Linked DNA regions of Homo sapiens: region 1 is linked to region 2. A link means that fine-mapping ties the variant in region 2 to the expression of a gene that starts in the linked region. Tissue or cell type: spleen. Region 2 holds a variant in brackets; the other region holds the start of a gene. All regions are shown on one strand. Distances are between the middles of the regions. Region 1 holds the start of RETSAT (retinol saturase). Region 2 holds the start of TGOLN2 (trans-golgi network protein 2).

The links. PIP is the estimated chance that this variant, and not a neighbour inherited with it, causes the effect.
Region 1: RETSAT starts here. The variant in region 2 is fine-mapped to the expression of RETSAT in spleen (GTEx, PIP 0.98).

What each region holds. Positions count from the first base shown.
Region 1 is chr2:85,353,381-85,356,283 of GRCh38, forward strand. RETSAT (retinol saturase) reads right to left here and starts at 1,148. Exons shown (of 11, transcript NM_017750.4): 1 at 956-1,148. The coding sequence starts at 1,127. It overlaps ELMOD3 (ELMO domain containing 3), which reads left to right and starts at 1,389. Exons shown (of 14, transcript NM_001135022.2): 1 at 1,389-1,449; 2 at 1,696-1,790; 3 at 2,175-2,218. RefSeq lists enhancers at 1,150-1,651, 1,216-1,615, 1,652-2,151, 1,786-1,845.
Region 2 is chr2:85,325,256-85,328,094 of GRCh38, forward strand. TGOLN2 (trans-golgi network protein 2) reads right to left here and starts at 2,734. Exons shown (of 4, transcript NM_006464.4): 1 at 2,662-2,734; 2 at 1,253-2,430. The coding sequence starts at 2,707. RefSeq lists enhancers at 1,337-1,506, 1,747-1,926, 2,787-2,839. The variant G/A (reference allele first, on the strand shown) is at 1,702.

The sequences.
Region 1 (2,903 bases), 28 kb after region 2:
CGGAGATCGCGCCACTGCACTCTAGCATGGACAATAGAGCGAGACTCTGTTTCAATAAATAAATAAATAATGCCAGTTGCAACTCACTAAATTGATTTCATAGCCCACTAATAGATCACAATCCGGTTTGAAAAGCAGTTAAGCTAGTCATCTCATTTTTAGACCAGCCCAGGTAGGTGCTAATGGTTATGCAGCAAATTAGTGACAGAGTCCAAGCTAAAACTCAGTTCTCAGAAGTCCAGATGATTAGTCCTTCCACTTAGAACAGTACTGTCTCCGATTGTGTAGCAAGATATGACACGGAGAATTCTAAAATTTACAAGTGAGAGGGACTCCGTAGATCAAACAGGTGATCCATTATTTTTTAAAGCAGCAGAACTCTTTAAACTCTAGAAGCAACCACAAAATATGTTTTAAAGATGAGAGTGGAGAGCAGGCTCTGAGCCTGAGGCGCCTTGTTGAACCTCTGCCAATGTTTCAGAACTAGGGTTCAATCCTTACGATTTGGGACCATGCAAAGCCTGTTAAATCACCGGACGGGCAAAACGCAATTTCCTACGCATTTCTGTGCTGCTCCCCCACACCCCTGAGCTCGCATGGGAGGGTAGGTGAAAAAGTTAAGGTCCTGGAACCAAGTGGAGGAATGAGTCACGGGGATTATCAGTTCCACGAGCCACGGGGATTACAAGTGGCAGGGCGGGTGCCAACACCTTGCAAACCAAGGACAATGACCACACCCTTGGGACTACTATTCCCGGGGCCTACTAGGGCAAAGGCTATCGACAGTGTTGCACACTAAAGCGGGGCTCCTCCACGTGCAAGGAAGCCCTCCTAGTACTTTACATATGGGGAAACTAAGGCCCACGTCTGGTAGCGGCTGCCTTGGCAAAATGAGAACCCAAATCTGTGAGAAAGCCTCGAGTGCAGCCCCGGACCCCAGGGTCCCTCCTGCTACCTTGTTTGAGAACCTTCTTCCTGGCCTCCTTGTCAGTTACCAGGGGCGCTGGGGGCCGTTTGACATCTTCGGAGAAAGGATTCGGGGAGCTGCCAGAGAATAGTCCCAAGTAAACTTTGCAGAGGACGGCCAGCAGCAGCACAGCCAGGAGCAGCACCAGCGGAAGCCACATCACGCCGGCGTCGGGTCGGGTAAATGGGACAGCTCCGACTGCGCTCAGCCTCTAGGACTGTGGCTCCGCCCGGGCTAGTTCGCTCTCCAGTCAGGAGGCGGAGGCAGCTTTGAGCACTGATTAACCAGCCAGCCAGCGAAGAGCCAACTCTCAGGTGATGATTGACCCTCCCGGCTCTCCGTACTTCTTTTGGGTTTCCATTGCCTACTGGGAAATGTAGTTCTCGGGGCCAGGGGAGCCGGCACGGAAGCGGCTGTGCGCATGAGCAGATGAGGCCTAGCCGAGGCGGCGGGACCCCCAAGTTTGGAAAGCTCTTTTAACGGTGAGAACGCGTTAACACTTGCCAAGGGGAGTGGTTGGTGCCTGTGCGGAGCTAGCAGCCGGCCTGAGGAGGGAGGGAGAATGTGATCCGGTGGAAATTATCACTATGGGGCGAGACAAGGCCGAGAGTTGTAAGACTGAAAGAGAATCCCGACTGGGAGACAGGAGTCCTGAGTTCTGGTCCTGGCTCTGCCCTGGACTCGCTGCCTTGAGGTGTTAAATTGCTTTCCTCGTCTTACGCCTCCAGGCTATGCGAAAGTTCTGTCCAAAGGCTGCTCACAGCCCCTGTCTGACTGGTTGTCATGATGAATTGAGCTCTCTGTTACCTGCGCATCACAACCGGTGAGCGTCTGTCTCTGTGCCCCTCAAAGTGGCCCATAGTTTTGTCCTGGGGGCCCGCCTGGGACGGAGTCCTCTATGGCGGGTCCCTAATGACACCCCATCCGTGGGGAACCTGGGGGACGGGGAGCCGCCCATGGACAAGCATGGTGAAAGGATCAGCTAAGGGCCCATCTAATTTAAATTCCTATGCAGAGAATCTAACCTCCAGCAAGCAGTTGAAGAATCATACCCCCTCCTTGCCTAAAGAGGGTGCATAATGAATACTTGATTGGAGAAGGATCCATTTTTACAGGAAGGCCGTTTCCTTAGGTCCAACTATCAGGAATTTGCCTTTGAGTACTTCCTTGTTTAATGGAATTGTTGCTCTTTTCTTCTCTGCTACAGATAGTAACTGTCCCTACTGAAGGCCCCAGGAGTGCTCCAGCCAGGTGTGGAAAGCTGGTCACGATTCTATGCTACTTGGTTCATTTTCTACACAGCAACAGAAGAGCCCTCCTGAGATTGCTATTACCATACCCGCCTGTCACCTTGCCAAGGCTGGCCAATGTGTGTTTTGTCATAGGCTGTCATGGAGGCCATGATGGAGGAAAAGGAAAGGGGAGGCAGATGTTGAGGCCCCAGAGGCCACAGTGAGAGCAGTTTAGTTCCTGGGGTGCCAGGACTAAGGGGGCATTGCCCTGTCCCCCGGATTACAGTGAGCCACATGTCAAGCCCAAGAGCCAGGAGGTATTCTTCCTCTCAGTGTTAATAATCAAAGCATCCTGACACCAGCAGCCAGTTTTTATGGCATCCTGGAGGGCTGACCTCATAGAGAGGCTACCCTCCTTCCTTAGTCACCCAAAGTTGTGAACTATGATTGTCAGTTGTGTGTGGGCCATCTGCCCACTTAGGATGCAATTTTTGATGTGACAGACATTCCGGATGTCCAATTCCCCTGTGATGAGGTATGAGCCTTGTCCAGCCCTTTTCCTGAGGGAAGCAATGTCAGATGAAAGACTTAGAATTGCCCAAACTGGCTAGCCAGCTGCCACATGCACAGTATTGCTGATAACTGAGAAAGGTTAGAACATCGTGTTGCATTTTGAATTTCTACCATTGTTGGAACCAGGTCTA
Region 2 (2,839 bases):
TGTTTGATTTATTCAAAGGTACACAGTCAAAGATCTATCAACTCCTTCCTAGAGATATCTAGGATATAGGACATTCCTTTAAAAAAAGTCATAATCAGAATTTCCTATCTACAAATGTACTTTTTCACCCCACGATGCTACATCAACTACATTCTTTATCAATCTCATTTCATGACTAAGGTTACCCTGCATAATGGACACTTGGACATAGAATAAGAAATACACTTTTTTTTTTTCTTAGAGGCAAGGTCTCACTCTGTCACCCGGGCTGGAGTGCAATGGCGTGATCATGGCTCACTGAAGCCTCGACCTCCCACAGTCAAGCCATCCTCCCACTTCAGCCTCCTGAGTAGCTGGGACCACACACGTCCACCACCACATCTGGCTAATTTTTTTATTATATGTAGAGACGAGGTCTTGCTATGTTGGCCAGGCTGGTCTCGGACTCCTGGGCTCAAGCGATCCTCCTGCCTCGGCCTCCCAAAGTGCTGGGATTAGAGGCAGGAGCCACTGCACCGGGCCAGGAATGCACATTTTTACTAAAGGTCTTCCCCTTTATTCTTTATAGCCATAGGCCTTATGGCCAGAATTGGACTCTCCAATTTTAAGCAGGTTACAGAAACTAGCTTCTAAATGTTGGGGGCTCAATATGAAATGCAATCATTTTGTCATTAGAGTGGTTGCTAATAAACAGACCAAACCCTGATGAAAAAGTAACAGGTGTACGTGTCTGTGCAATTTCTGGGCTTTCTTCTAATTATTATTAATTGCAGAAGTCCCTGGGCTCTTTGGTCCTGGTATCGAAGACGCAGTAATTGAAACCATTCTTTGTGCCACTGCTGATGGAAGAGAGAATGTTGGGAAAGGAAGCTAGAAATGACATATCGTCTCAAGAAGGGAAATAGGATGGAAGGTACGTGCTTTAACTGTCAAGTACTCAGGTCCTCTGAGGCTGTGAAGGACCTAAGTGCAAAGTTATGGGAGGAGATTCCAAGTCAGGTCAGATCCTAATAATGTCCTAACTTGGCTCCTAATGCAGTAGCAGAGGACACTCAGAGTAAACAGGTGACAGGATGAAAACACGATTAACAAAACAAGAGTAAAGAGGCCTAATAGGGCCTGAGGAAAAAACTGAAGTTTGTTTTAAAGTCCCCAGTGCTCACGGGCATCTAGTGACGGGATACCCACCCACACCCAAGCTTCCAGGGTGCTGGAAACCCCACTCCCCTCCGGAAGGCCGCTGTCGACTTACCTTCCGCTTGTTGTGATGAGCGATATAGAGGACAGCCACAAGAATGGCTGCAGTCACCAGATATGCAAAGAAGTGGCTGCTCTCCGCGCTGCCATTTCCAGAACCGTTCGGATAAAGGTCATCCTTCTCGCTACCCGTGGAATCCGAAAGTGTCCCTTCACGGTTCTCACTGGAGGCAGAACCGGACATCTTTTCTTTCTCTTCTTTGGGCGGTGAGCCCTCCTCGGGTCCTGTATCATCATCTTCAGCCTCTTTGGGCTCCACATCCTCAGTAGGCTCTGAAGACTTAACTTCCTCCTGCGGGGGAGAAATGAGGTCAGTTTCCTCCCCAGATTCGGTTTTGAAAGCATGAGGAGAAAGCTTCCCTTTGTCAGCAAGCTGGTTTGTGTCAGCCTTGGGGAGCTCCTTGTTATCAGAAGGGTTGGAGATGGGCTTGGAATGGTCTTTCC[G/A]GGAAGGCTGCTCTGGAACCACCTTGTTAGGGCTGTCTTTTGAGGTCTGCTCCTCCGCACCCGACTTGCTGGGCCCGTCTATTGGGCCCTGCTCCTCTGCACCGGACTTGTTAGAGCCGTCTTTTGGAGTCTGCTTCTCCGCACCCGACTTGTTAGGGACGTCTTTTGGGGTCTGATCCTCCGCACCCGACTTGCTGGAGCCGTCTTTTGGGGTCTGGCCGTCCGCACCCGACTTATTAGGGACATCTTTTGTGGTCTGCGCCTCCGAACCTGACTTGCTAGGGCTGTCTTTTTGGGTCTTTGCCTCCGCACCCGACCTGTTGGGGCTGTCTTCTGGGGTCTGCGCCTCCGCACCCGATTTGCCAGTGCTGTCTTTTGGAGTCTGCAGCTCCGGATGCGACTTACTAGTGCTGTCTTTTGTGGTCTGCGCCTCCGAACCCGACTTGCTAGTGCTGCCTTTTTGGGTCTTTGCCTCCGCACCCGACTTGTTGGAGCTGTCTTTTTGGGTCTTTGCCTCCGCACCCGACTTGTTGGGGGTGTCTTCTGGGGTCTGCGCCTCCGCACTCGACTTGCTAGGGCTGTCTTTTGGAGTCTGCGGCTCCGGATGCGACTTGGTAGAGCCTCCAGGCCGTTGGCTCAAGCTGGGGTGGGTGGAGACGTTTCCTGCAGAAGGCCGTACTCCAGCTTCTTCTTGCTTGACGCTTTCGGTGGCCAAGAGCGGCACGGCTCCTGAAATAGAAAAACGAGTTAGCACCGGAGAAGGGCAGGCGGGAAGAAGGAACTCCTCAGAACTGGAAGAGATCGGGAGCAGCGGGGGAATGGGGATTGGGGGGTGGGGCGGGAGACGATGGCGAGCGGAGAGGTGGGTCGGGTAGGGAAGAAGCGAGCCTAGAGGTGACCTGCCCAGGTGAGAATGGGGGATCTGGGGGCAAGAGTGGGATGCGGGATGGAGGGTCTTACCCGCCGCTGCGACGTTCAGGAGGACCAAGGCAACCACGAACCGCATCCTGCTCGGATAGCGCTTCCGCCCTCTAATGCTCTCGCGAGATCCGCGCGCGGGGCCCCTCTCCAGTCCCGCCCCTGCTGCGCGCGTCTCTCAGTCTCCCGCTGCCGCCAAGACGAAGGGCGGGATTTAGGG